Linked DNA regions of Homo sapiens. The protein of the gene in region 1 purifies or fractionates together with the protein of each later gene. This does not show direct contact. Each region holds a gene or a part of one and is shown in the gene's direction. Other genes may lie near its edges.

What was found. Proteins that work in one complex are often made in the same cells at the same time.
Region 2: the proteins of RIOK2 (region 1) and HECTD1 purify together in Homo sapiens (affinity purification with mass spectrometry; 2 studies listed by BioGRID and IntAct, with this or other methods). This does not show direct contact.

Annotation. Positions count from the first base shown.
Region 1 is NC_000005.10:97,176,499-97,180,253, reverse strand, and holds part of RIOK2 (serine/threonine-protein kinase RIO2), read left to right. Parts: intron 1-1,060; coding exon 1,061-1,199; intron 1,200-2,405; coding exon 2,406-2,522; intron 2,523-2,962; coding exon 2,963-3,138; intron 3,139-3,755. UniProt on the Homo sapiens protein: Serine/threonine-protein kinase involved in the final steps of cytoplasmic maturation of the 40S ribosomal subunit. Involved in export of the 40S pre-ribosome particles (pre-40S) from the nucleus to the cytoplasm.
Region 2 is NC_000014.9:31,103,123-31,106,877, reverse strand, and holds part of HECTD1 (E3 ubiquitin-protein ligase HECTD1), read left to right. Parts: coding exon 1-232; intron 233-1,209; coding exon 1,210-1,288; intron 1,289-1,401; coding exon 1,402-1,495; intron 1,496-3,755. UniProt on the Homo sapiens protein: E3 ubiquitin-protein ligase which accepts ubiquitin from an E2 ubiquitin-conjugating enzyme in the form of a thioester and then directly transfers the ubiquitin to targeted substrates.

The DNA of each region.
Region 1 (3,755 bases):
CTTATCACTTCTTAACTTCTAATAAACTTAGATGTATACCATTTTTTAAAATTTCCATCATGAGATAAAAATTTCTCAGAGGTAAAAAGCACATATATATATATATATATACATATATATATATATACATATACACATGCAGAAGAGCATGTAGGATAGAGATATATATATATGTGCTTTTTACCTCTGAGGAATAAATTTAAAAATATATATATAATATATATATTATATATATATTATATATATATAATATATATATATTTTATATATATATATTATATATATATATAAAATACTTTTAAGTTCTGGGGTACATGTGCAGAACGTGCAGGTTTGTTACATAGGTATACACATGCTATAGTGGTTTGCTGTACCCATCAACCCATCCCATCTACATTAGGTATTTCTCCTAATGCTATCCCTCCCCTAGCCCCCCACCCCCCGACAGGCCCCAGTGTGTGATGTTCCCCTTTCTGTGTCCACGTATTCTTACTGTTCAACTCCCACTTATGAGTGAGAAAATGTGGTGTTTGGTTTTCTGCTCTTGTGTTAGTTTTCTGAGAATGATGGTTTCCAGCTTCACCCATGTCCCTGCAAAAGGCATGAACTCATCCTTTTTTATGGCTGCATAGTATTCCATGGTGTATATGTGCCACATTTTCTTTATCCAGTCTATCATTCATATATATATATATATCCTCTACGATGCCTACATGTAGTACTTTCTCATTAAATACCTGCTTAATAAATATCTGGCATATCTGTAGTTTTTAAAGACAAATGTTTAGGTGTCATCAAGTATTTTAGCATTGACCAAATGTCATCAGTATGTCTAGCACTCACAGTTCCTACTCTTGAAATGGAAAGCCAATACAAATATCAATGATTAGATTTCAAATTGCAATTAAAAATATTTTCAAGAGACGGAAGTGATTATGTCTCAGAATTAGTTGGAGAACTGCATAGTCAGGAAAGCTTCAAGGAGAAGTTAATTTCGCAGGGTTTTGATAGACAAGGCTTTGTGTTGATTATGATTATATAATGATTCCTTTAATTTCAGGTTGAAATGGGCATGAAGAACCATGAAATTGTTCCCGGCAGTTTGATTGCTTCTATAGCCAGCCTTAAACATGGTGGCTGTAATAAAGTTTTAAGAGAATTAGTGAAACATAAACTCATAGCTTGGGAGCGTACCAAAAGTAAGTATTTTGAGGCACCATTTGTGATTTTTCAGGTAATTGGTTTCCACCAGAGCAAGTGTTCCAAAAGTCAAGAAGTAGAAGTTGCCAGACTAGTAAAGCATTAGACGAAGAACTGACAGAACACACTTCGGCCATATCCTATTAGTCAAAATAATCACAGGGCACACCCAGATCAAAGGAGGTGAAAAAAGAATAGTAGTAAGAACATGTAGGTACTGCAGAAGAGCATGTAGGTACTGCAGAAGAGCACGTAGAGTACTGCAGAAGAGCATGTAGAGTACTGCAGAAGAGCATGTAGAGTACTGCAGAAGAGCACGTAGGTACTGCAGAAGAGCACGTAGGTACTGCAGAAGAGCAGGTAGAGTACTGCAGAAGAGCAGGTAGAGTACTGCAGAAGAGCATGTAGAGTACAGAAGAGCACGTAGGTACTGCAGAAGAGCACATAGAGTACTGCAGAAGAGCATGTAGAGTACAGAAGAGCACGTAGGTACTGCAGAAGAGCACGTAGGTACTGCATAAGAGCAGGTAGAGTACTGCAGAAGAGCAGGTAGAGCACTGCAGAAGAGCATGTAGGTACTGCAGAAGAGCATGTAGGTACTGCAGAAGAGCAAGTAGGTACTGCAGAAAAGCATGTAGGTACTGTAGAAGAGCATGAAGAGCATGTAGGTACTGCAGAAGAGCATGTAGGTACTGTAGAAGAGCATGAAGAGCATGTAGGTACTGCAGAAGAGCATATAGGATAAAGCTATTGTGGCTACCATCTTTGGAAAATACAATCAGTAGTCATACCCTAGATCATTACTTCTGAAACCATCTGTGGTGAAGGATTAGTTTTTTCCAACCTATCACAGATCCTTACTTTTATAAAATACAAAAAAATAATTACTAGAAAAATGAAATGGATAACAGATATACAAAAACAGACATAAATTCTAGGTCAAATTGATATACAAATTGAACTTAAATTCCTCCTTTTATCTTGTCACAAACACTTACAGACCTGTCTGTAGGTCACATTTTGATTATCAGTACACTGGAGAAGAAATGCAAATTATAGGAAGAAATTGGAAGCTTGTGAGCCTGGGCAGTTTATCTTTTTCCAATGAAGACTTTATTGTTAAATCTTTCTTATGACTTGAACTTACGTGACTTGGTTGTACAATGTAACTGAAATATGGTCTTTATGCTTTGATTTTTGTCTAGCTGTCCAGGGCTATCGGTTGACAAATGCAGGATATGATTACCTAGCTTTGAAAACACTTTCTTCTAGGCAAGTAGTTGAGTCTGTTGGAAACCAGATGGGTGTTGGCAAAGAATCAGGTAAGTGCTAATAGTACTGTGCAAAGTATTTTCTTTGCTTTAGTTTATGTTTTCCCTTCAGAAACCTTTCCTCTTTTAATTTTCCCTTTTTTCTAACTAAACAGTAAGTTGGAAAGTTGATTGGAAGCAGTACAAATCAGAAGGTGTCCTTAATTAGTAGGTTATTATTTTCTCTGAACGTCTATCACTGAAAATTCATTTATACCAGGAATTAATTTTCTTCTAATAACTCCCAAGATATATCATTATTTATGTGCAAATATACCAGAATCCAAAATTCAAAACACTTCTGGTCCGAAGGTTTTGGATAAGGAGGGATACTCAATCTTTATTAGGAAAAATGACATTTTTGATACAAATAAAATTAGAGAAAGTTAGAATTGTTTTAACTGATTGGAATAAACGTGTAATAATGGTTGTTTTTGAAATTTTGTCTCTAGATATTTACATTGTTGCAAATGAAGAAGGACAACAATTTGCATTAAAGCTTCACAGACTAGGAAGAACCTCGTTTCGAAATTTGAAAAACAAACGCGATTATCATAAACATAGGCACAATGTGTCATGGCTATATTTATCTCGTCTCTCTGCCATGAAGGAATTTGCCTATATGAAGGTATTTATTTTATTTTGTAGTCATGCATTTTTTAGCCAAATAATACATGTGTCTCAAAGGCCTTAATGACAAGTGTGATTCTGTTGTCCCCACATCTCTCTAACCTTAGACTCAATTCCTACAGACAGACTCAATCTTAAATAACTCTGTTGATTATTTGGGCTCTTTTAAGTGATTTCCTTCTACGTTAAGGTATTTTAAATTGTTACTAATGCATAAGGGCAACACATTCTGTAATGCTGACAAGATGAAAGAGCCAAAAGTAATTAATGATGCTGTTACCTCACAAATATGTATGTGTGGATGTATATATATCTATTCAATATATGTAACTATACATATGTCTGTTTCTAATTGAAAACACCAGGTAATTATCATCTGTAGAAACCTTAGTGTCTCAGATAAGTTGGCTAGTTTTTTGTTTCACATAAAGGAACAAACATTTATAGATTTATATGTATATTAAAAATGGTAAAAATTGGCTGGGTGCAGTGGTTCATGCCTATAATACCAGCACTTTGGGAAGCCGAGGTGGGCGGATTACTTGAGGTAAGGAGCCCAGCCTGACCAACAAGGTGAAACCCCATCCCTACTAAAAATACAAGAATTAGCCGGGG
Region 2 (3,755 bases), on another chromosome or scaffold:
CTAAACCAAAACCCCCAGCTTGGTTTAATGGAATTTTGACTTGGGAAGACTTTGAATTAGTAAACCCACACAGAGCCAGATTTTTAAAAGAAATTAAAGACCTTGCTATCAAGAGGCGCCAAATTTTAAGCAACAAAGGTCTTTCTGAAGATGAGAAGAACACAAAATTACAGGAACTAGTGCTGAAGAATCCATCAGGTTCTGGGCCTCCACTTAGCATAGAGGATTTAGGGTAAGCATTATATGTACATTCTTCAATCCAATGCATGAATAAGTTTTAAAGCTTTTGTTTCTTTGTCGTCACTGATTTGCAATATATGAGTAAATAGTCTGTCAAAAACAGTAATATGCTGTAGGAAATATTGATGATCGACTTGAACCTTTGATTTAATATTATAAAGACAACACTCAGAATACTAGAATATTAGTTTATTAATCATCAAACCTTTAGAAGATTACCTGACTTAGCCAATGTGAATTTATATGCCTGTGTAAAATGTCCAGAGCCAACAATATTTTGACAAATTCATCTGCTAATATATGATTCACTTTGCAAAGCTCAAAAATTGGTTGGTATGTCAGCTTTATCACCAAAGGCTGTAGCAGTTGAGATGCTGCAGAACTTTTGATAAAACTCTGTTACTTTATGTACAGGTAATTATCATATCTTCAGCTGTGATTTTAGGTTAACTGCAAGGCCTTTTTTTTTTAATGTTTGCTGATAATGTTGGTAAACTGTGTTTGATAAATGGTTATATATTCAAGGTTTTTTTTAATATATATTTTTGTACACAGCGTGATTGACTTCAGTAAAGCAACAGTTTCTTCCTAAAAGTCTTACAAACATGTTGCTGTCATAATTCATTGCAAAATTTTTAGTTCATTAATTTTGTGCCATAAGTTAGAAGTAAAATATAGAAAGGTGGTTTCATGCAATCTTTGCAAAGCCAGACAGATTTGATAACAGTTGGCCTAGTAGATTTTGTCCATAGAATATTGCATTTAAAAAGTCCTCAACTTACTTCTAAGCTGGTGTACTGATTTTGTTGGAGGAGGAGAGGGGTGGGATTTATGGTTTTGATAGCCATGTTATTTTATTTAATTTTTTCTCTTGTACCCACTGATGGCAGATGATAGTAATGTTATAAAAATTAAACACCATTAGTAGTAGCTGCATGTCAGTTAATTTAATCTTTTTTGTCCTCCCAGTTTAAATTTCCAGTTTTGCCCTTCCTCAAGAATATATGGTTTTACAGCTGTGGATCTCAAGCCAAGTGGTGAAGATGAGGTAAAAAGTTTGCTTTTAATATAGTTGTAAGTTCTGACATATCCTCTTAGCAAGGCCAGTTGTACTAGACACTCCTGAAATATTCCTAGATACTGACAAATTTTCTTTTGCAGATGATAACAATGGATAATGCAGAAGAATATGTGGATTTGATGTTTGACTTTTGTATGCATACGGGTATTCAGAAACAAATGGAAGCCTTTAGAGGTAATTTTAAAGGATTTTTAGCATAATTGCTCTCCTTTCACTTTGAGACAGTTGAAATTATGGTCAAGAATTGCTGGTGGTCGGCTGGGCACGGTGGCTCACACCTGTAATCCCAGCACTTTGGGAGGCTGAGGCGGGAGGATCACCTGAGGTTGGGAGTTCGAGACCAGCCTGACCAACATAGAGAAACCCTGTCTCTACTAAAAATGCAAAATTAGCTGGGCATGGTGGCGCATACCTGTAATCCCAGCTACTGGGGAGACTGAGGCAGGGGAATTGCTTGAACCCGGGAGGTGAGGTTGCGGTGAGCCGAGATCACACCATTGCACTCCAGCCTGGGCGATGAGCAAAACTCCGCTGCACAAAAAAAAAAAAAAAAAAAAGAATTGATGGTGGTCGGGTGTGCGGGTGTGGTGGTGGCTCACACTTGTAATCTCAGCACTTTGGGAGGCTGAAGCAGGAGGATCGCTTGAGCCCAGGAGTTCCAAGACCAGCCTGGGCAACATGGCAAGACCCCATCTCTACAAAACATTTTTTAAAAAATTAGCTAGATGTGGTGGCACGTGCCTGTGGTCCCAGCTACCTGCAAGGCTGAAGTGGGAGAATAGTTTGAGCCTGGGAGGCTGAGGCTGCAGTGAGCCATGTTTGTGCCACTGCACTCCAGCCTGGGCAACAGAGGGAGACCTTGCCTCAACAAAGAAAGAAAGAAAGTGGACATAGGTTGCATACATTCTAGATTACTTGATCAGGATGAATTAACATGAAAGAATCATGATGGGAACAAAGTATATTACAAGGTAAATTACTTTTGAAAATGAGAACACAGTTTTGCCTGACTTGTATGACAGAAAGAGCTGGTGAACTCCAGACTGAGTAGTAATAAGAATTTGCATACTGACCATAGCAACTGAATGTTCTCTCTCTGTTCACGTTTGTGATGTTAAGCAGGGATTTCTAATTTAAAATACAGTTTTAATTTCAAGCTGTCTTAATTTATGCTTGTTTATTCAAACATTTATGAATGTTGAATATTCATCTTCTGTCCATTTCATCGGTAATGGGTATTTTTTTATTGTTGCATAATATATGTACATGTTTATGGGGCATTTTGATACACAGAATGTGTAATGATAAAATCAGTCTTTAGGACATCCATCATCTTGGACATTTATCATTTCTATGTGTTGGGAACATTCAAATTATTCTCTTCTAGCTTCTTTGAAATATATATTATTGTTAACTATAGTCACCCTACTATGCTAGAAAACATTAGAACTTACTCCTTTTATTTAATTGTAAGTTTGTACCCATTAAACTACCTCTCTTCATCCACCCCCACATGCAACATTCCCAGCCTCTGATACCATTCTTTTCTTTACCTTTATGAGATCAACTTTGTTGTTTTTGTTTTTTTGAGACGGAGTTTTTGCTCTTGTTTCCCAGGCTGGAGTGTGATGGCACGAACTCGGCTCACTGCAACCTCCACCTCCTGGGTTCAGGCGATTTTCCTGCTTCAGCCTCCCGAGTAGCTGGGATTATAGGCATGCACCACCACACCCGGCTAATTTTGTATTTTTAATGGAGATGGGGTTTCCCCATGTTGGTCAGGCTGGTCTCGAACTCCCACCCTCAGGTGATCTGCCCACCTCGGCCTCCCAAAGTGCTGAGATTACAGGTGTGAGCCACCTTGTCCGGCCAAGATCAACTTTTTAAGTTCCCACATATGAGTGGGAACATGTGATACTTGTCTTTCTGTGCTTGGCTTTTTTCACTTAATATAATGACCTCCAGTTCCACCCATGTTCCTACAAATGAAAAGATTTCATTCTTTTTTTTTTTTGAGACGGAGTCTCAGGCTGGAGTCCCAGGCTGGAGTGCAGTGGTGCCATCTCGGCTCACTGCAAGCTCCGCCTCCTGGATTCACGCCATTCTCCTGCCTCAGCCTCCCGAGTAGCTGGGACTACAGGCAGCCGCCACCACGCCCGGCTAATTTTTTGTATATTTAGTAGAGACGGGGTTTCACTGTGTTAGCCAGGATGGTCTCAATCTCCTGACCTCATGATCTGCCTGCCTCGGCCTCCCAAAGTGCTGGGATTACAGGCGTGAGCCACCGTGCCCAGCCCATTCTTTTTTATGGTTGCATAGTATTCCATTGTGTACATATACCACATTTTCTTTACACATTCATCCCTTGATAGATACTTAGATTGATTCTGATAATGGGTATTTTGGTTTGAAATTTGGTATTTTGGAATCGTAA